2 separate regions of the Homo sapiens genome follow, and region 1 is linked to region 2. A link means that fine-mapping ties the variant in region 2 to the expression of a gene that starts in the linked region. Tissue or cell type: whole blood. Region 2 holds a variant in brackets; the other region holds the start of a gene. All regions are shown on one strand. Distances are between the middles of the regions. Region 1 holds the start of ZAP70 (zeta chain of T cell receptor associated protein kinase 70). Region 2 overlaps TMEM131 (transmembrane protein 131).

What was found.
Region 1: it holds the start of ZAP70, and the variant in region 2 is fine-mapped to the expression of ZAP70 in whole blood (TOPMed, PIP above 0.99).

Annotation. Positions count from the first base shown.
Region 1 is chr2:97,707,030-97,717,655 of GRCh38, forward strand. It overlaps ZAP70 (zeta chain of T cell receptor associated protein kinase 70), which reads left to right and starts at 6,547. Exons shown (of 14, transcript NM_001079.4): 1 at 6,547-6,645; 2 at 6,887-6,965. RefSeq lists enhancers at 148-708, 709-1,267, 6,355-7,328, 8,560-9,075, 9,076-9,590 and a silencer at 4,192-4,381.
Region 2 is chr2:97,755,044-97,765,669 of GRCh38, forward strand. It overlaps TMEM131 (transmembrane protein 131), which reads right to left. Exons shown (of 41, transcript NM_015348.2): 36 at 6,992-7,157; 37 at 5,750-5,871; 38 at 5,550-5,646; 39 at 4,609-4,706; 40 at 3,850-4,010; 41 at 1,293-2,340. The coding sequence ends at 2,056. It also overlaps a transcript of ZAP70 not described here. Among named protein-coding and RNA genes, the nearest start is that of ZAP70, 47 kb to the left of the region's middle. RefSeq lists enhancers at 6,242-6,461, 8,397-9,178. The variant A/AT (reference allele first, on the strand shown) is at 4,962.

The DNA of each region.
Region 1 (10,626 bases), 48 kb before region 2:
ATGGTGTGGGTGGGGAAGAATAAGGTGGAGAGAGTGGGGAGAATAAGCTGAGGGAGTGGAGTGGGGACAAGGAAGGTAGAGGAATGGGGGGAGGGAAGTGGAGAAGCGGGAACTATGTGGTGGGTGGGAGATTTGAATGGAGGAGGGGGTAGGAGGAGGTGTTAGAAGGAGGAGGGTGAGGGGAGGGAGTACTGAAGTACTGATGGGCCAGGAATGAGCCCCAAGAGGTTGGTTCAGCCCACTTGTTCCAAGAGGGTGGGGAAGAAGAACTGGGTGGGGAATGGGTGGCTGCGTGGAGAGCTGGGGGAGGGGAGAGCCCATTCCTTCCCCAGCATCAGCAGCATCAACAACGGGTGTAACTTACCAACTGGTTTCTGCTCAAGTCAGCACTTACTGGGCACCTCCCCATGCCAGGCACAGTGCCCTGGTGGGCAGGTACACCCCACCATGTGGCCCTCCCAGAGCTCTCCACTGGGGGTTGACCTTGGAGCCTGCCCTGGTATCTGTGCTCCAGCCCCTTCGCTATGAGATGAGCACCACCTTTTCCATTTCTCAGATTGAAGCCAGCGGGGAGGTGGGGAGAGTGGGGCCCTGGTCACCCCGGAGGACCTGCCAGCTGTCCAAAGGTCTCTGAGTGCTTCGCCAGGGCAGGTGCCCCAGGAGAGGAATGCCAGCAACTGGGGTGTGGCCTGTGCCACCTGACATTCGCCTGCCCGGCCCTCACAACGCTGGGAGTTTCCCAGGCATGGTGCTGGGGAGCTGGGTCCAGCTGGGCTTCAATACTTGTCCTGCCTGGACCTTCTCAGAGCTTTGGCTTCCTCTTCTTGGCAATGAGGCTGATAATTTACCCTCTTTACAGAGCCATTGGGTGGTCCGTTCAGCAGCAAACATTTATTGGACACCTGCCGGGTGCCAGGCCCTGTGCTGGGCTGGATGTGGGGTGGCTGTAGGGCAGCAGGTGGCTGGGGTCCTCTGCGCTTGGAAGGAGATGCAGCTGCCCCAGCCTGGGCATACAGCAGGCACAGCAAGCATACCAGATTTTCCTTGAATTCTCAACAGGTTGCACATGCACCCTTGTCCCATCCTCATGGCAACTTCTTGGGACCCCAGCCCTGAGAGGCAGCCCACCCCTCTGCTGGCCTCCTACCTCTACCCTGGGCTTGCATTTGAGGAACAAGCCCTATCAGCGCCTATAGCCTCTGCCAACAGTCCCCGCATGGCCTGTGGGCCCCTGGGAGCTGCCCTGAACTAGCATTTCCATTTCCCTTTCTTCATCAAAGAGGTGGCTGCCTTTGCGCTGTCAGTTTGCCTTCACGCTAAGGCCTTGCAGCTTTAGCTCAGGGTTGGTTCAGCCTGCTTGTCCCTAGCTGGATGACGGCAGTCACCCTGATAGCACAGGGGATTTCAGGGTGGAGCCCTGTGGAAGCTCCAAGCTCCCTTTGAGCCAGGAGGTCCCAGGCTCCCCACTTGCTAGCTGTGGAATTTCAAGCCTAAGTTTCCTCTTGGTCTCAGTTTCTAGATCTGTAAAATGAGGCTAATCTACTACTCGCTGGGGCTGTTGTGAGCGTTAAATGTACCTTAGCTGGGGCCAGCACGCAGTCGTGCTTGATAGAAAGAAATAGATGCATTTAAGCTGTTATGAATATTCTGCAAGACTTCAGCGCTTTGCCCACCCAGCATCCCTTCTCCTCCTTCCAGCCACTCCTTCCTTCCAGAGTGTGCTGTGGGTGGGGCATGTGACCTGGTCCTAAGCCACGTCCCCATGCCATCCGCTGGCGTCAGGGATTGGCTGGGGGATGGACAGGTGATCTACTCAGCCAATGAGCTGTGCTGGGGGTTTTTCCGGTAATATCGAGAAATAGATTCTTGCTCCTTGAATAGGATTTGAAGCTGAGTGACTTTCTTGGACCATAGGGAGAAACCTTGTCTGAGAATGAAGCCAACAACCTTGGGGTCATCAGTTGAGCCCAGAGCAAGCTGTTCCTGAAGCGCATATGTGGGATTTTTTCACCCATCCATGCAATATTTATTGAGTACTATTGTGCTAGGTACCACTCCAGTTGCTGGGGTCGCAGCTGGGAACAAGATAGTTCCTACCTCACAGATGACACAGTCCTGCTTAAGACCTTTGCTGGGAATGCTCTTCCCCCAATATCTCCGTATCTCCGTGGCTCTCTCCTACATCTCCTTCAAGTCTTTTTTTTTTTTTTTTTTTTTTTTTTTTTTTTTTTGTGAGACGGAGTCTCACTCTGTCACCCAGGCTGGAGTGCAGTGGCGCAATTTCAGCTCACTGCAGGCTCCGTCTCCTGGGTTCACGCCATTCTCCTGCCTCAGCCTCCCGAGTAGCTGGGACTACAGGCGCCCGCCACCACGCCCGGCTAATTTTTTGTATTTTTAGTAGAGACGGAGTTTCACCGTTAGCCAGGATGGTCTCGATCTCCTGACCTTGTGATCTGCCTGCCTCAGCCTCCCAAAGTGCTGGGATTACAGGCGTGAGCCACCTTCAAGTCTTGATTCACAGGTTATCCCCTCCGAGGCATGCCCTGACTGGCTCAAAATTACATGCTCAAGACCTCGCCTACCCTTTCTGATTTATTTTACTCCTTAGCACCTGTAACCATGTGACATACTCTATGAAATATTTATCTATTTTGTTCATTCTCTGTCTCTCCCACTAGAATGTCAGCTCCATGAGGGAAGAGATTTTCATGTGCTGTTCACTGCGGATCCATAGAACAGAGTACCCGGAAAAGAGTCTGGCATAGAACGGGTGTTCAGTATTGAATAAATAAGTAGCCAGGGGTCTCAGGAGGTGGCAGTGCCATGGCAGTTTGAAGGCTTCCGAAGGAGCCATCCACTTGAGAAGCCCCCAGGGGAGAGCACAGCATGTGGCTGCTGTGGTCAAGCAATTCTTTTCTGACTTAAACCAGCTGGATTAATTTTTTTTATTTCAGGGCAGGGCGGTGGTCACTTTCAGCCTTCAGGGACGCCTGAGTTGTGCTTGGCAGCCTGCAATACTGGAGAGCTGCCCCTGGAGGGCGCAAGGGAATCCCGTTGCTGCACTCGGACGCGCAGTCACTAGACATGAGAGATGACGGTGGTGGTAGCAGTAATGGAGCATTTGCCTTTAGGCCTCTTTTAACTTTCACAACAGCCTACAAGACAGGTACCATTATCCCCGTTTCCTAAGGGAGGAAACCAAGGCGCAGAGAGGCTAAGTAACGTGCTCACGGTCCCTCAGGGTTAAGTGGCAGAACCAGAAAAGAACCAGAAGGAAAGGAGATACAAGTCACCATTTTTGGCCTGGCGCGGTGGCTCACGCCTGTAATCCCAGCACTTTGGGAGGCCGAGACGGGTGGATCACGAGGTCAGGAGATCGAGACCATCCTGGCTAACGGTGAAACTCCGTCTCTACTAAAAATACAAAAAATTAGCCGGGCGCGGTGGCGGGCGCCTGTGGTCCCAGCTGCTTGGGAGGCTGAGGGAGGAGAACGGCGTGAACCCGGGAGGCGGAGCTTGCAGTGAGCCGAGATAGCGCCACTGCAGTCCGGCCTGTGTGAAAGAGCGAGACTCCGTCTCAAAAAAAAAAAAAAAAAAAGTCACCATTTTTCTGTACACCCAGAGGGAATCCAGGAGGGGCCCTGGATGGACCTGTTTCCTTTGGGGCTCATTGCACTGGGGTGTATCTCCTCTCGGGCCTGCTGGAGCCTCCACCCTATCTCCCTGCTGCACGTCTCCCAGCAGTGGCTTGTGTTCTCTTAACTGTGCAGCCAGATTGGACCTGCTCAGCTCCAGGTGAAATGGACAGAAAGCCCATCCCTGCCCGGTCTGAGGATTGGGAAGCCTTCCTGGAGGAAAACACGCTTAATTGGAGACCTGAAAGAGGACTAGGAAATAGGCAGGTGAAGAGGTGTGGGCAAAGACCTGAGGATATGGGGGTGACTGATGAATTTCTTCGAGGCTCTTGGCATGAGTAGAGTGAATGTTTACCCCAACCCGATGAGGCAAAGGCACCGCAACTTTCCTAGCCCACATTTCCATCCGTTTGCCCTTTACTGTAAACATTCAAAAGATGCATCCACCTCCTTCCACTCTGGCAGAACAGAGGACCTTATCTGCATGCCAATCTCGGATTATCTGTAGCCCAATCTCAGAGCTGTCTGAGCACTGGGCTTTGTAGTTTCCAGACCAGCCTCTGGGACAGGAAGTGGGGGGCTCAAGGGTTGTAGGGCCAGTGCCTTGCAGAGGCTGGGAATCCCCTTCTCAGGACCTGAAGACCCTGGAAACTGGAAGCCCCCCACCCACACAGAGGCACCCTGTCCCATAGCTGGCTCAGCTTCCAGCTCCCTGGGGCGCTGGCCTCCTTCGGGGAGATATTTTACAACCAAAGTTTTCTTCTTTTATGTCCAGCAGCACGTGGGTGGGGTCAGGCTGCCTGGGCTGCAATCCCACCTGGCCACTTGGCATCTCTTAACCTCTCTGGGCTTTACTTACCTTATCTGGAAAATAGGTTGAATGGCTTATTAATTGTGATGTGCGTACAGCAATGTCTGGCACATAATCAGTGCGACTCTCATTATTGTAGTATGAATGTGATTTGATGCTGTAATTTCTCCTCTCTTCAGGGTGCCGGTGTCTTTTTCTCTCAATACTCCAAGAAATGAGCGTCCAGCATGGATGTGAAGGGATGCTTGCTGCACCTGGAGTTTCAAGATGCCGCTGGGGAAAAGGGAGGCTGCTAGCAAACACCATTTTGGAGGGGGCTGTATGAAGGAGAAAAGTAGCCTAGAGCCGGAACTCAGATTTTCTAAAGGGGATTCAGGCGGCCAGAGGATAGTAGAGGGCCAGAAAGGAGGTCCCCAAGGAGGCTTCGGGGTAGGGTGTGAGGGGATCCTCAGGCAGACTGGGGAGCTGAGCCTGTTGTAACCGAGCGAGTTACAGAGAAACGCCGCACTTTGAGACGAATTCAGGGGTCCTTTATTAGCTGGCGACTGAGAGACAGCTAGTGCTCAAAATTCTCTCAGCCCCAAAGAAGGGGCTTGATTTTCTTTTATACTTTGGTTTAGAAAGGACAGGTGGGGGTCTAAAACAATCTTACAGAAGTAAAGCAGGCAAAAAGTTAAAAGGATAAATGGTTACGGGAAAGCAAACAGTTCCAGGTGCAGGGGCTTAAAATCTATCACAAGGTGATAGACACGGGGCTTTGGGCGTTATCAACCGGACACAAACGCCGGGGCTCTGGGTGCTATTAACCGGGCGAATTCCTGGGAACTGCGGATATAGCTTGCCACAGTATCTTATCAGTTAATTGCATTCTTGGATGTGCTGGGAGTCAGCTTGCACAAATTAAGTCCTTGAGGAAGCGGGGTGGGTAAGGGGCTGCAAATGAAAGAGCCAAGATGGAGTCTGTCTGGCTCTCTTAGCTAAGGGAGAGTCAATTCAGGTTAAAACAAGGTAGGGTATCACAAGCCCACTTAACAAGGGCAGCAGGACCCCAAGAAGAAAAGCTTTAGGAGTCTCCACAGTGGGCCCAGGGCAGTTCCACACAGGTCTCTGAGGCCCCACAGACAGGAGAGCTGTGACGACTCCCTTAGTGCCCAAGAAAGCAAGGAGGTGGTGGGCAAGGGGCTCCCAGAGGCCTTGGGGCACTAGAGGGGAGATGGAGCCGAGGGAGTGGCTCTGCAGGCCCCTCTCTGAGAGAGTGCATGAGGTGTGGCCCCAGGCCCAAGGGTAGGGGGTGCACAGGGTGAGGGAAGGGAGGAGAGGAAGAGGAGGAGGAGGTGGTGGCCACAGCGGGATGGCACTCAGCCAGGTTCAGCTTCGTGGGAAAGGTCCCAGGTGGGCCGGGCTAGCACTGGGGATGCCCTGGCTCTGTGTCTCGGTTGGGTGGCTGACTCCTCCTGGAACGCATCCCTGACATCCTCCAGGCTGGCTTGGGGATACTCTGGGGACACACAGTGCCCAGGCTTCCGGCCTCCCAGCCCTGGCTCCCTGTGGACTCAGCTGCCCCCAACAAGCCTGCGAGCCACTGGAGAGCAAGGGCAGGCTGTCCTTGCCATCCAGATGCCTGGCACAGAAGGGGTTCTCACCTTCGGGGTATGGGCTGACTCAGTGGGTTTCTCCTCCCTCCAGCTCTAACCTGCCTGTGGAATAAACAAATCACTCCTCTGGGTTGTCTAGCTGGTGCAGGCCCCAGGGCGACGCCCCTTTGAGGGGAAAATGGGGGCATTCCAGTTTCCATGAGCCCTGGGACTCCCCTCCTTCCCACCACTGCTGCCTACCCTCCGGTTCCAGGTATGCAGGCTTCCTCCCTTCTGACGGTTCCTGCTGCTGGAGTCGTCCTTCCTGAAACCCTGCCTTTGCTTAGCCTCATTCCCATCTCTCAGTCCCATCCTGCAGCTGGGCAGGCAGTGCTGGGCCCCGGAAATGCCCTCTGCCTCCCTGGAGCACGTGGCCTGTGATTTTCCTTGAGCACAGCACTTTGTGACTTTGATGTAAACATCAAACACAGCCCCCTTTCCTGTCTTCGCATCCAGGAAATAGGTTAGTTTCAGACAAGCCTGCTTGCCGGAGCTCAGCAGACACCAGGCCTTCCGGGCAGGCCTGGCCCACCGTGGGCCTCAGAGCTGCTGCTGGGGCATTCAGGTAAGCGGCTGTCCTCGGGCCTTCTGCCTGTGTCCTGCCACCAGGGCCACCCCAGGGGGCTCTGGGAGACCTGGCAGAGGATGAACCCCCCCCATCCATGAGTGAGAAACCCTGGCGGGGTGTGACATCCTCCCCCGGGGTGTGTGCGGAGAGTGTGAGCGGCAGGGCCTCCCTCTCAGGCTGGGGGCTTGGGCTGCAGGGAAATCCAAACCGGCTTTGTAAGCCCCGATTCCTCACCCAGAACCGGCTCTCCATTGGCATTGGGACCAGAGACCCCGCAAGTGGCCTGTTTGCCTGGACATCCACCTGTACGTCCCCAGGTAAGTGGTGCCTGGGTGGAGTGGCACCTGGCCACCGTCTCCATGGTGGGCTGTGTCTGGAGGAGGAAGACAGAATATTAACTGGGAGTCAGGAGGTTGCTGGGAGGACCAGGAGAGCTGGAGGACTGGGCTGGGTGGTGACTGGCTGGAGATGGAGGCAGACGGGGCTTGTGGCCACGCTGAGGGAAGCAGCTCCCCCTCCAGAGGCTTGGCCGAGCGGGGCTGTTCAGGGGACACGGTGAGGCCTGCTCAGTCCCTGGGCTCCTGCTGGGCCCTGTTTGGCTGCATCCTTGGCTCTCGGAGGCAGAGAAACCTCCAGAGAAAGCGCATGTGCACTCTGTGAAGATGAGGGGGCTGCTCACCAGGGCCGTGAGCTCCATCAGCAGAATGCTGTGATTCCTGTGAGGAGTCCAGGGCAGGCTTGAGCCACTTGTAGGCGAGCTCAGGTTAGAGGAAGACCTGGAGAGAGAAAGAGCAAAACACCGAGTTCTCCTCAACTGCTGTGTGTTCTCGGCAAGTTGCTTGGCCTCTCTGACCTCAGTTTGTGCATCTGTTAAATGCACATGCAGATATGGGCACCTGGCAGGCGCCTGGTTCCTGACTGTTGGCGAGAGGCTGGGAAATGTGTCCCAGGTAGGAAGCATCCCCGACAGGAAGGAACAGGAGTTCATGAGGTGAGCAGCTCGAGATGATTCATTACTCTCGTCTTGGTTGGAACAGTAGGCAGACAGGAGGTGTTTAATAATGCCTTGCTGAGAGATCAGGGTCAGGGACTCCTAAGGTGCCACCTGTGAAGCTGCCTCCTGCTGAATCCAGAGCTTCCTTTTCCTCTTCACACCTGCCCTCCATCCTCAGCCCCACTGCCCTGGCAGTGTTGCGGGGGTGGTGTTGATGTGCACACTCTGGAGCCTGGGGGCCTGGCTTCACATTCTGGCTCTGCCACTCACCAGCTGTGTGACTGGACCAGTCACCGCATCTCTCTGTGCTTCCCTCCCAGGGCTCTCGGGAGGATAAAGAGAGTGACTGTATCCACACTGCCCGGCACATACAGGTGCTGCAGAAAGGTCTCACTAAAACCCTCATTATCCTCACTAGCTCTGGGTGGCCTCGGGCTCTGGACTCCACAGTTCCTGTATGCTCTCCGGGGCTGCAGCACCCAGACCACCCCGTGCTGACCACTCCCTGCCCCACCCCAAGGTACAGGGTTAAGGCAGCCATTCTCATCAGAGCCAATTTTACCTCCTCCCGTCTCCCTGGGACAGTTGATAGTGCCTGGAGACAGTTTGGGTTGTGACCCAGCGGGTGTTACTGGCATCCAGCATGTCCAGGACAGGAATCCTGTGAACAGCCTACAAGGCCCAGGACAGTCCCACCCTGTTCCATTGTCTCTATCAGCCCCTATCCTCCTGACTCACACCGCCTTTTCCCATCTCCCTTTTACAGTCACAGAGCCTGAGGCCCAGAGAGGGACCGCTGCTTGCTGAGGTCACACAGGCAGTGGAGGCCGGAGTTGGGGGCCTCACTGGAGGGGCGGTGGAAGGGCATTGTTCAATCAACAGACACTTGGAGAGTGTGCTGGGTTGGGGAATCTGACCCTGACCCCGCACCAGCCCAGCTCTCCAGGGTCTCCTAATAGACATTTGCTGGAGTGGTTAGTGCTGGCTGCTGCATTGGACAGACCTGAGTTCAAATCCTGGTGGCCCCTTGCAGGCTGCATGTTCTGAGAGTGACATTGACCTCTCCGAGCCTCAGTTTCTTTAGCTGAGGAGTGGGATAACAGTTCCCACCAAATGTAGTTGTGGTGAGAATTAGAATAAATGGCTAATGCTCGCAAAGGGTAGTGCAGTCCCCAGCACAGAGGCTGTTGTGATTGTCCTTACACACTTGACAAATATTTGTGGGGAGGAAGCAGGAGCTTCCATAGAAAACAAGACAGAGCCGTGGGCCCTGCCTCGGGGAGCTCAGCCTGGTGAGGGACTGAGGAGCAGAGACAGAGGCCATCAGGGCTGTGATGTGGGAGGATGGGGACCCTGGAAGCCTAGGGGAGGTGCCTGACCCAGGCTGGGGAGGGGGCAGGGCTCATGGAATGCTTCTGGGAGGATGGGACAACGGAGGAGGCCTGAAGCCGGAGGCCCAGTAGAAGGATGCAGCGCAGTTCTGGGCTGAGGGAATAGCCTGTGGCCAGGATCCTCAGGATGGGCCCCTCCTCTCCCGCCATCCTCCACCCAAGGAAGCCCCTGTGGCCCCTCACCCCTTCCCAGGTGTCAGGTTCCACCGGTGCTCAGAGGCATCCCCACCCATCCCAGTGGACTGCAGACCTTTGTAGGTACCTGGTATATTGAGCACCTCCTCTGTGCCATGCTGGTATAGGTAGGAGAACAAGACAAAGGCTCCACTCCCGTGGTGCTTACATTCTGGCAGGGACAAAGGTACTATGTCACCAATAGATACAATATCATCTTTTAGGTGGTGAAGAACAACAAAGCTGGGTCAGGGCTAGAGAGAGAAGGAGAGGCTATTTTGGAGAGGGAGGTCAGGGAAGGCCTCCTGGAGGAGGTGACTTAGGCAGAGACCTGAATAAAGTGGAAGGTGTTGGAGGAAGAGTCTCCAGGCAGAGGGAACAGACAGTACAAAGGCCCTGAGGCTGCACCATGCCTGGTTTGTCCGAGGGACCTGAACGAATAACATGAGGAGGCCCGTGTGGCTGGAGGGGAGTGAGTGGCGGGGGGTGGTGATGGGCATCATGAAGGGCCTTGGGGGCCACCCTGAGGACTTGCATTTTCACCCCGAGTGAGGTGGGAGCCTAGAGGGCTTCAAGCAGAGAAGAGGATGTGATGGCATGACGGGGGCCAGCAAGTCTCACCCCAGGGAGTCCCTGCAGCCCCAGTGCTGGACACCTTCACTGGCCCTGCTTTCCGGAGGAGGTCTGGCGAGCTTCACTCGCTGCTGAGGCTGCACTGTGACCATGTGGTGGGTCCACGATTCCATGATTTGAATCCAATCCCTGCAGTCAGGAAAGACATATGAAGGAGGAGCCTGCAGCCATGGCTAACTGCGGCTGTGTGGCTCATGGCGTCACCAAGCTGGCGTGTGCTGACGACCAGTGCCTATGCTGCCTCTGTTGGTGGGCACAGGCGGCCCGAGCACAGCTGGGGGATTAAGGAGCAGGGAACATGGCTTCAGAGGGACTTAGGGTCTCAGGTGAGGACTAGGGGTTCAGAGAGAGAGAGCCAGGAGCTGGAGTGGGAACAGGGTGGTGGGGGGGCAGTAGGAGGAGGTGGGGCGGTGAGGGGCTGGGGCCCTGCTCCTGCAGAGCCTTGGATGGGGACATGTCAAGCCTCTGGCTGGGGGGACATGCGGAGCCTCTGGCTGGGGAGACATGCGGAGCCTCTGGCTGGGGGGACATGCGGAGCCTCTGAGCCTCTGGCTGGGGTGACATGTGGAGCCTCTGGCTGGGGGGACACGAGGAGCCTCTGAGCCTCTGGCTGGGGGGACACGTGGAGCCTCTGGCTGGGGGGACATGTGGAGCTTGTGCTGCTCCTGCCCGCTCCCACCAGGTCCAGTGGCTTTGGTGTGATACCTCTGCTCTGACGATGGGCATGTAATGGGGGCTTCTGATGCCCAGGGAATGTTCTGTGAAACAGTAGACCTTCAAGGCTTT
Region 2 (10,626 bases):
TGGGGATAGTTTTGATTTCATGATGTAACTAGCCTCCAACAGAACATTTATGTTACCTAGCAAAGCCTGGCTTTAACACAGACTGGAAACAAGACAATGAGAAAAGCAAGTTGGAACAGGCAAGATTAAACCAACCGATGCGTTGTGGCGTACCGAGACTCGCCTCGTGTCTGTGTGAACTCAACAGGGACCATGGAGGAGCTGAAAGTCTTAAAATTGGAAAAGGGTCAACACACTTCTAGTTAAAAGAAAAAAAATAAAATTTAGATGTGTAGTCTTTACTACTGCACCTTACAGGCTTGGCTAAGTCATTTCCAGTCTGCACCAAGGCTCCGTTTCCAGCAGCCCCAGCTGGTATTTCTACATGGCACCCTGTGTGACTGCCACCTGTGGCTCCATTCCTCAGTAGCACACAGGTTGCTTTCCATCCAGCCTGGCTTTGGGGTATAGCTGTATTAGCAGGTAAACTGCTAAAGCATTTTAATACCAGTGGGTAAATAGCTGTTTCTAGTACCCCCAGCCCCTGTGCCATAGCCCAAGGCATCCCCCCTTGTCTCCAAGCCATCATTTAGAAATGAAAGGGCCAAAGGGGCACTGCATGCTGTGTTGCTGCTGGTAAGCTCCCACAGGTGGCCCCCAGAGCCCTCCCCCAGGCTGCCCGAGTCCCTGCTGTCTTCCCTCTGTGCCCCTGCTGTCTTCCCTCTGTGCCCCGCTTCTCTCCTTTTCTGTCTTCCTCTCACCATACAACTTCCTCAGACTGAAGGCTGGTAAAGGTTGGCCAGTGTTAGAACATGCAGTGGTGAGTTGGACACAGACTGTTCCTGAGAATGGTGACTGTGACCAGAAGGAAGGCAGCACAGTGGGTGCCATGTGAATCTGCGGTCAGCCTGACCTGGGGCCTCTGAGCCAGCACTGCCCAGCCAGGTTCCTCAAGTATAATGGAGTAACCCAACATATCCCAAAGTGTTAGCCAGGTACCTGACAGAGTCAGTATTCAATAAATGGTAGCAATTACTGCTTTTTATGAGGCCTTTTAGGATAGTGGCAGAGGGAAAACGCTTACTGGATGAATCCAAACAGGCTTTCAAGTTGTTTTCGATCAAGGACCCTCCATGATTGCCATGGGAACACACAGAACTCCATTAGACTGCAGGAAGTTCCAGCAATGAGAAGGCAAACCCCGTCTTAACCTGTCAGCTCCACAGAGTAAGGCAAGGATAAGGTGGTTTACTTTGGTGTGAGAAAATCCTAATAAATACACCTTGTGTGTAAAAAAAACCACAAAACAAGGCTTTTGAAAAAAGCATCATTTATTTCAAAGTACAACACAAAGTTGTATTTTTAAGAAATACACATTCAATCTTGTATCTCAAGACTTGGCTATGTGCATTTCAGTTCATCTTTAAAATAAGTTCAGGTATACAAATGTTACATACCTCAAGTACAAACAGCACAGAAAATGCATATGGTCTCAACTGAATGTTTTTACATTCATTCACCGTTCTTAAGTTGACTTACATTTCTGTAATCTGCTTTTAAACCAAGACAGCCTTACTTTAAAAAAATACTCTATTTTCAGCACAAAGTCCTCATACAGTTTTAAAATTAGATCTTGGCGCATAATATTGAGAAATTATTAAAAACCAAACTTGGTAATTTAACAAAATTGTCACATGCCAGGATTTCTGAATCAACTCAAATTATTTCCTTAGCTGTAATGTCAAATCTGTGTTCATACAGATAAATAAAGCATGGGGAAGACAGGTGGTGAAAACGCAGTAACGGGAAAGGTTCTCAGATGTACAGGTCTTATTAGAGTTTGTGGCTGAGTCCAGACTTTTCTCTAAAAGCACAACAGCAAATCTCATGTTATCATAATTGCAAGAAAGATCTGAAAGAAGCGAGTGGTCTGAGCCTGCCCTGCTTGGGTCTGTTTTGCAAAGAAGAGGAGGGTGGGGAGGGGAGCTGCAGTAAGAGCCTTAAAAAGATGTCTCAGAAACTGGCACATCATGATCTAGACGAGGGCCCACTATGTTTGTTTGTTTTTTGCTTAATTTAATTCTCGTGAGGAAAGTGCGAATTAGACCAAGGGTCCGAGCTTCTTCTTCCAATCGTGGGGCTCCATATCCGCCACGGGTTGTAGGTCTGTCCCAAGTCGTCAGCTGGACTGGAGGTGGAGGGAGCGTGAGGAGCAGGGGAGTTTTCTGTGCCCATGAGGCCGATGCTTGCCAGCGTGTTTGCTGGAGTGGTGAAGGGAAGGGCGCTGCTAAGGTTGCTGGACCAAATGGAGCTGCTGAATGGAGTGGTGGACCACAGGCCGCTGGTGTTACCGAGGACCGACTGCGACAAAACAGAAAGCGTCCAGCACTGAGCCCGGCAGGCAGAGGGTCAAGTGGGTAAGGGGGTAAGGCTACAGAAAAGATGAGGCTGGGGCACGCATTCCTCTTACTTTGTTTACTTTAGAACAAATGTTATATATATGTATTTGAGCAGATGTTTCTGATTTTTTTGAGACAGGGTCTTGCTCCATCACTCAGGCTGGAGTGCAGTGGTGTGATCATGCCTCACTGCAGCCTCAAACTCCTGGGCTCAAGTGATCTTCCCACCTCAGCCTCCCAAAGTGCTGGGATTACAGGCACTAGCCATCATGCCGGCTAGTTGTGATATTTTAAAAAAGACAGCTTGTGGACCAAATCCAGCTCTGCCTACTTTTGTAAAGAGAGTTGTATTGGAACACAGCTGCGCCCATCGGCCTGTGCACTGCAATGGCAGTGGTGAAGCATGGCCTTCAGAGCCTCAAATAGTTACTATCTGACTCTTTATAGAAAGTTTGCTGACTCCCACTTTGGGAGGCCGACGTGGGCGGATCACGAGGTCAGGAGATCGAGATCATCCTGGCTAACATGGTGAAACCCCGTCTCTACTAAAAATACAAAAAATTAGCCGGGTGTGGTGGTGGGCGCCTCTAGTCCCAGCTACTCAGGAGGCTGAGGCAGGAGAATGGCATGAACCCAGGAGGCGGAGCTTGCAGTGAGCCGAGATTGTGCCACTGCACTCCAGCCTGGGCTACAGAGCAAGACTCTGTCTCAAAAAAAAAAAAAAAAAGTTTGCTGACTTCTCTTTTAAAGAATGGTTAAGGTGGTTTTAAAACATAAGGCTGAATAATTACACATGAAGACAACCTTTGGAATCTGTAAAGTTGAAATATCTGTTATAAAACCTTGCATGTTTAGTTTCTCTGAGAACAAAGAGGCAAACACAGTGGGGTCATATTTTTCTGTCATAATTTTGTGGAAGCCAAAACCACTAATTATTTTCCTTGGCAAGAATACTCTTTTCAGCATGGTCTTTGCAGAAGACTTTAGCCAAGAAGCAAACAAATGCACTCTTGAAAATCTAACCTAAGAGACAGGTGCTTCTCAGCAACAAAGTAAATGCAGTATCTAGCTTGCTCCTGGGTGGCCAGTGGCTGCATTGCACAGATGCCGAAGGCTTCCCTCAACCATCTGAACCTGCCATAGGCCTATGGTCACCCTTGTGGTCCATTTACAGGTTGGGAAGAGGCAGAAAATGCCCTTGAGCTATTAGGAGGGACTCCAGAGACCAACCCCATAGCTGTTCAGTTGTTCTTCCTAAAACTTCCTGATTGTAATGGCTCTGAAGAACATCGATCAGTCATTTTGACAGAATATGAAGACAAAGCAATGGAGACAATAAAAGTACTAACCCACCCCTCTGATGCTGCTGTTTGTTGTTTATAACTATGTCAGTGCCATCCATGTCACAGCAATGGCAGATGGCGAGTGGGTGGGCCAGGTCCAGGCCCCAGCCCCAGCCCCAAGTACTCACTGTGGCTGTGTGGGTCGGGGAGCCGGAACTGGCTGGCCAGGAAGGACTGGGATCTGTCGCTGGCGACTCCCAAAGGTATGAAGGGCCACTATTAAACTCGTTCCAGCTCCTCTGTGAGGCCTGATTGCACGATCGAGATAATCCGAGTTTGCTGAAAACTTCTGGAAATAAAGCAACAGTCATCAAGTCCATATTTGGTTTTGCCATGATCACTATAGCATATGGGGCTTCACTCAATGGCATACCTCCAACCACTGCTCCTGGAGCCACCACACCCACTTCACCAGCCCACCACAGCCCAGAGGAAGTAGGGGCAGGAGTGTCCTCCAGAACTCAAACGCATAGTGCACGAGCTGATATGCCACCAATGACATCCAAATGCAAACTTTCCCCACTCTCACATGATAGCTAATGGGAAGCTTCCATGGTGACCTCTAGTTCTGGACAGCAAGAAGAGGACCCCTGGCACACTCAGGGGTCCCATTTCAGACCAGAACCCTTCTGTGAAGCCCTTCAATACCCGCCATGGAACTCACACCAACTGGTGTGCGCACACCGTGTCGAGCCTGGTCCACTGCCCCTCTGGGCTGCTGGTGTGGATGAGGGAGGAAGAGGGGAGGGGACCCTTCCCAGGGAGCTTCCTGCGGGGCCTCTTCCACAGTGCTGCTGTGCTGTGTTCTCCAGCACACAAAACCACACCTCCTCTCCCTTCCTCTGTCCACAGGCTTATTAGTTACACATCTAGTGTTAAACACTCACCACCAGTTAGATTAAAAGAGTTTCCAAAGGCGGAGAACGAATTGAGGGGAGTGAAGTCAGGGCTGCTTGGGTTGCTGACGGGACTCCACAAACCCGAGCTAAATGTTACAAGAGGAAAACGCAACACACAAAAATGTATGGTGGTTAGTGCAAACGGATCCATAGTGCACAGCTTCACAAACAGGAGACACTGCTTCAACTGGGGGTACTCAAATATTAAAAACAGACAAAAGGAAGAGCTGAACAATGGCTGCTTACCACAAGGGTTGAGTCGGAGGGAGCCCCAGAGCTCCGGATGCCCTATCACTAGCTCACAGCCAGGTTCAAAGCAAGTGTTTTGCAGAGAAACAGAC[A/AT]TTTTTTCCTTCTGTTTGCTTTTTGGTACTGGAAGATTTATTTAAAAACTATTTCAAATCTAGAACTCATTTCCTATTAGTGCAAAGTAGGTAAATTGGGGCTCTATTGTTGCTTATCTGGAAAAGTCAACCAAGGTGACTGCTGCAGGCCACCACACCCCCTGCATGATAAACAAGCCTGCTCAAGAAAGAGGCGTGGCCAGTGATTTACTATAAATTGGCTAGTATTTGCTCCAGATTTCCCCCCTCCCAAGTCACTTTCGCTCTTCTATTTTTAATGATCAGATCACATCTTACCACAGACCAGGAGATGGAGGAGAGTGAGAACAGGTGTAACGTGTGTCTGCCTGGCTGAGACAGGCATGGGTGCCCCCTTTCTCTATCTGGACCCCCTGGGGAAGGCACCGCAGCCGGCTTTCTGCTTCCACCCAGCAGACATGATTTCTTAGAGGCACTTGACCACTTCTGACAAATGCCTCCTTGTAAATTAGGGGAAAAATGCCCTGAAACCCATTTATGGATAAAAAGGTGCTAACCCGACTTGAGAAGCCTTCCGTCTTTCTAGCGGTTAGTGGTGGTCTACCGTACCTGTCTGAGCCATCGCTGTCAACAGGAGCGTGTGAAATGCCAAGGCTGCTGGAGAAACCTGTTTTGTTTGAAGAAACTTTAGCAAAGCCATTCCCACCTGTAACAATGGACGTTCAATCAATGGAAGGCACATTAGGACAGAGGTCATTCCACCAGGCCTGGCGCCTGGCGTGGCAGGTCTCTGAAGCAAAGGCACTGACCTGGGCTCTTGTCGTAGCCAGCCGTGACTGCAGCAAAAGTGGGGTTGCCGTTCTTGCCCGGGAGCGAGGCTGCCTTTGTCAACTTGTGTTTGCTTCCATTTGGCTGTTTTATTTTAGGGTCACTTGAAAAAGAAGCAAAGAGAGAACTCATTCCTCATCAGCAGTGCCCTGTCTCGGGGAGGTGTGGGGCTGGCAGGACTGAGCCCTGAGTGGGCTTCTCTGCAGCGGGGCAGCTCACAGAGCATCGCTCAGCCTCATGTCACATGCTCTGGGGCCTCAGACTGCTTAATCAGACAGAGATAGAGGGCTTTCTGGAGAAAGGTAAGAAAACAAAAGATCACTATGAAAGAGACCAGGGCAGGGATCACAATTTAGGGACTGGCAGAGGCTTCGATCACACTTTTGTGAAGAATGCTAGAGAGCCACTCGGCAGGAAATGCAGAGGGCAGCCACCGACACCGGAAAGGGCGGGGCCTCAGGGAGTCTCCTTCCCTGCCAGGACACGGCGAGGTGCTCCTGTGGCAAGGCCCAGAAGCGGGGTGGCTCCCCCAGCCTCAGTGGTTACTGCCTCTTGGGCAACGGCGGGGAGGACCTGACCCTAGGCTGGCCGGTGACGCGATGCACAGAAACCCACGCCACGGCGAGGCACACGGTGAGAGTGCCATCCGTGACTGTCAGGCTTGCGGTACACTGTGGCAGGCGGACACGAGTGAGGCTCCGTGCCTCGGAGAACAGCATGCTTCCTGCATCCTGTCTGTGTGGTCAGGAGGCTGCCCTCCCGGGTGCACACATCCCCTACTGCAGCACCTCACCCAGCACAACGGTCTTGGACCAGGTCCTGCCCTTCTAAGTCCTAAGCCAAATTGTCCAAAGGCCAAAATTAGTGTCACATAAACCCATACTCCCAACTCACAGGAATCCCCTTTAGGTCTTCATGTAAGGCTTAGTAAATGTTCATTGGCTCACTGAGAATATCACTCTAGTGAGTTAAATGGTGCATTTCTCGGTCCACAGGTGGTAAGAATGAATGGATTAGAATGGGAACCGGGTTACTGTTGGAGCTGGGCACAGCAGCAGGAAGCGGGGGTGGACCCCAGGTAAAAGGGTCCACACAAGCTGGCAGCCATCAGAAGTAACACCAGACAGTGGCCTGTGGCCGCTAAGTGTTTCCATTTAAAGGGTGTGACATCGGGTTTTAGGCACATTTCAAGCTGAGAACCGGAAAGGAAGCAGCAGGCCTACCTGCTGGAGCTGCTGTTGACGATGCTGCTGTAGCTGCCCCGGGCCACAAAGGGGCAGGGGGCAGCTGGGGGAGACGGGGAAGCAGGTGTCGGTGAGGTCTGGCGTTGTTTTAAGAAAATGTCTGCGTTGAGGGTTTGCAGAGAAAGTTTATAAAGACTATCAGTAGCTGGAAATTAAAAACAAACGGGCTCGTTAGTGTGGTGTTTTGATTAGCGCTCTTCCAAATCACTTTGAATGTTCTCTAAGACTATGCATAACTCAAGCCCTTCTACAAAGAAAACAAACGAAAGCTCTTAGATGTGTTCTGTTTAACAGGTTTTAAAGAGAAAGCAGCCACATCTCTCTGCACTCGGGGATTTGAGGGGAGCAAGAGCGTGCCCGGTCCCTGCTGTGTTGTGTGGCGGACAGTCAATGTCTTCACTTCTCCCACCTCAGGTAGGGGAGGAGGGTCTTCCACATCCTCCAGGGGTGGACAGCTGAGGCCGCTGCCTGGGGACCTGGAAAATCCTTGTGCCTACACGCAGGTTTACAGCTGTGGGAGGTGCAGTGTTCCGGGCTGAATCCCCAAGTTCAGTAAAGCCTCTCCATTGGCGTGACTGGGATGTGCAGCTCTGATCCCTATTAAGCTCCTAGTATATTCCTGTGCCCTTTAAAGTAATGTCTATACAGCTGTTTTAAAAATCTAAAACAGGCTGGGCACAGTGGCTCGGACCTGTAACCTCAGCACTTTGGGAGGCTGAGGTGGGAGGCTTGAGCCAGGAGTTTGAGGCTGCAGTGAGCTATAATCACACCATTGCACTCCAGCCTGACCCCATCTCTGAAATTAAAACAAAAAATTTCAGTCATAAAATAACATTCTCTACTCAGTAAACGGAAATATGTATACCTTTTATCAGAAAAATGTATCATTTTGCACATCTATTGTGTGCAACTTGGTGCTGCTGTAGCTACTGCAAGAGGAAGAAGGTGGGGGAGAGCTTGGACCTGTGAATTCCCATCACCACAGGGCACGATCCCCAGCCCAGGCCTGGCCAGCTCGCTACCTGGCTGGCCCCTCCTGCCTTGTGAGATTTCCGCGTACCCTGAGTACCCCCGGCTCCACTTCTCCCGTCCCCTCACTGCCACATTGCAGCCGCTCTGCCTGCTGCCTCTTGCTTCCCTGGTCACACCCTGTAGCACAAGCTGCTTCTCCCCTACCCCCAGGGCTCAGGGCTCAAGGTTTCCCATGTCTTGGCTAGGTCAAGCCTCCAGCATGGCCCTGCCGAGCAAAGCAGCCTTCCCTTGGAAGCCCGTGCTCTCCACTCCGCCATCCTCAGGGCTGCCTGCTACCTTCTCTCTCACCTTCCCCAGTGCTGCTGGTACTGGTGCCAGACTCACGGTCCTGTCTCCCACCCGCCCACTCTCACCCCTTGATGACATGGGCCCCTCCTCGCTGGTTCTGTGGATCTGCTGACCTGATGCCCACACTCAGGACGTGTCTCACACCGCTCTCCCATACGAGCCCTGCTCGAATCTTTGTCCCCATCAAGCTCCTCTGAGGCCTCCCATCTGACACCACGTCTACACTGTCGGCTTGCTATTTGTACAACTGTCCTGACCCTTCCCTAGCCACTTCCTCTGGCCTCGCTCCGCCCCTGCAGTGACTCGTCCCCTCAGGCAGTGCCCACACTTGGAGCAGGCTGTGCTCCGTTTTGTGTGCGCTCGATCCTCCCGAGGTGCCTGTCCTGGGGAAAGGTGCGGGCAGCTCCTGTGGGTGGAATGTGTTTCACAGGGCCCAGAACTACAGATGCTCCCAAGACAGTGATGATGAAATGAAACAGGAAAAGCAAAGGGAAGTTAGCAAAAGCCCCTACTGAACAGTGCTTGAGGTAGGAGTGAAGGGGAGACTCTGAACAGTACACGAGCTGCAATTAGAGAACGTTTTGATTCAAATATTATTAAAATTTTCCTTTGTGGCTTCTGATTTGCTTTTCCTTTTAATAACCCTTTGTATTTTTTGCCTTTTTAAATCATGAAATTATTCAAGGAGCATTTTCTCTGCAACTCATGTGGTACAGATGGTATAGGGCACCATGCTAAGGGGTGCTACTTGGGATGGAGAGATCTTTACACAGAGGCTGCACAACTCCCCCAGCGGCTACTGCCACATGCTGGCTGCACAGTCTTGGGTGGGACCAACGCTTTCACCCCAAGGAACTGCACTAAGCTTGGCACTGCCAACAGCGCTCGCAGAACTTCAGGTCTAAGCAAGACGAAACACCAAGGGAGGCGAAGGGATAAAAGGGGATGAGAAAGCTGGGGCAGAGCAGGAAGGTAAAAGTGATGGAGAGCATGTGGGACCGACTCTTCTGGGTTTCCTCCACCCATATTCTCTATCGAGTGGAGCTCTGCTGGAACATTTTAGTAACGCTGGCAGTGAGGGCAGAGAGGTCACAGGGCTTGGAACCAGTGTAAGGGACTGCTTGGCTAGAAAAACACAAAAGGACTGCACAGACGTGGGCTGAGGAGACAAGCTCTGCATCTCTTCCCCCAGTGCCCACCGTGGAGCTCTGCCCTGAGGCGCCATGCTCAGATGCACCAGCTGGCCTCTGTGGAAGAGCCAGGCAGGAAACTGAGGCATGCGGCACTGGGCCCTTCACAGTTCCTCCTCCAGAGGGCTGGCCTGCCATTTCCCACATTCCTGCCCCGAGGAGTGGCACCAAAATCTCCTGTCTGGGGTTGGGTCCTGTCATCCTTTCCCCTCCACACAGAAGGAGTGATGTCAACATGTGGCTCAGGTGCCACCAGGTGGGGATGCTGCCAGCCAGTTTGTGGCTGTGTCTGGCTGTCACCTGCTCTCCCGGCAGCATGGTTCTGCATGCTTGTGTCATTACGTCACCAACACGGCTCATGTCACCTCACTGGGCCTCAGAACACCCCTGTGAAACTGGCTCCAGGGGCTGTGTTCTGTTGCTGAAAGTGGCATCTGTTTAATGGGGAACTGCCTAAATCGTGGAGTGTTAAGCCAAGAGCCAATGGCCAGCAGAAACCTCAGGGGGCGCTAGGAAGCAGAAGCATCCCACCTGGACACACGGACCACCCACGGTCTTCTTCAAGATTTGCTGAGTGAAGGATTTAGGATTGTATCCCACCCCTGGCAAAAAGTAGTACTAAAAGGTGCCAGAAAGTCTCATGGCAAATAGGGCTACAGGATGTATCTCAGAGAGCATCTCTTTCCAGGATGTATCTACACATTCCGGCGAGAGCGTGGACGCCCTACCCGAGCCTCCAAGGCTCTCTGCCCTCATTCAGCCCAGTGAGCCTGCCCTTCGTCCAACTCCTTTCACCTTCAATGACCCGACTGTTGCTCAAACCTGACTGCATCTCTGGTCTTCCTGACTTGCCCTCTGGTACACTCCAACACAGTGGTGAGTGCGGACCAATCAGTCCTAAAGCCAGGACCTCTCTTGATCTCAAATCCCTGCTGTCAGCTGCTCCCTTTTCTGGTCTCTGTTGCCCCCTATTTCAGGTCAAGTGTCTGTAGGGTGAGGATTTCTATTTTGGTTGACTGTGCCTACTGTCTTGATTTACTGCAGGCCAAACTGGAGAAACAAGGTCAAGGTAGTGAGAAAAATAATGAAACCTTTGTGTAGGTT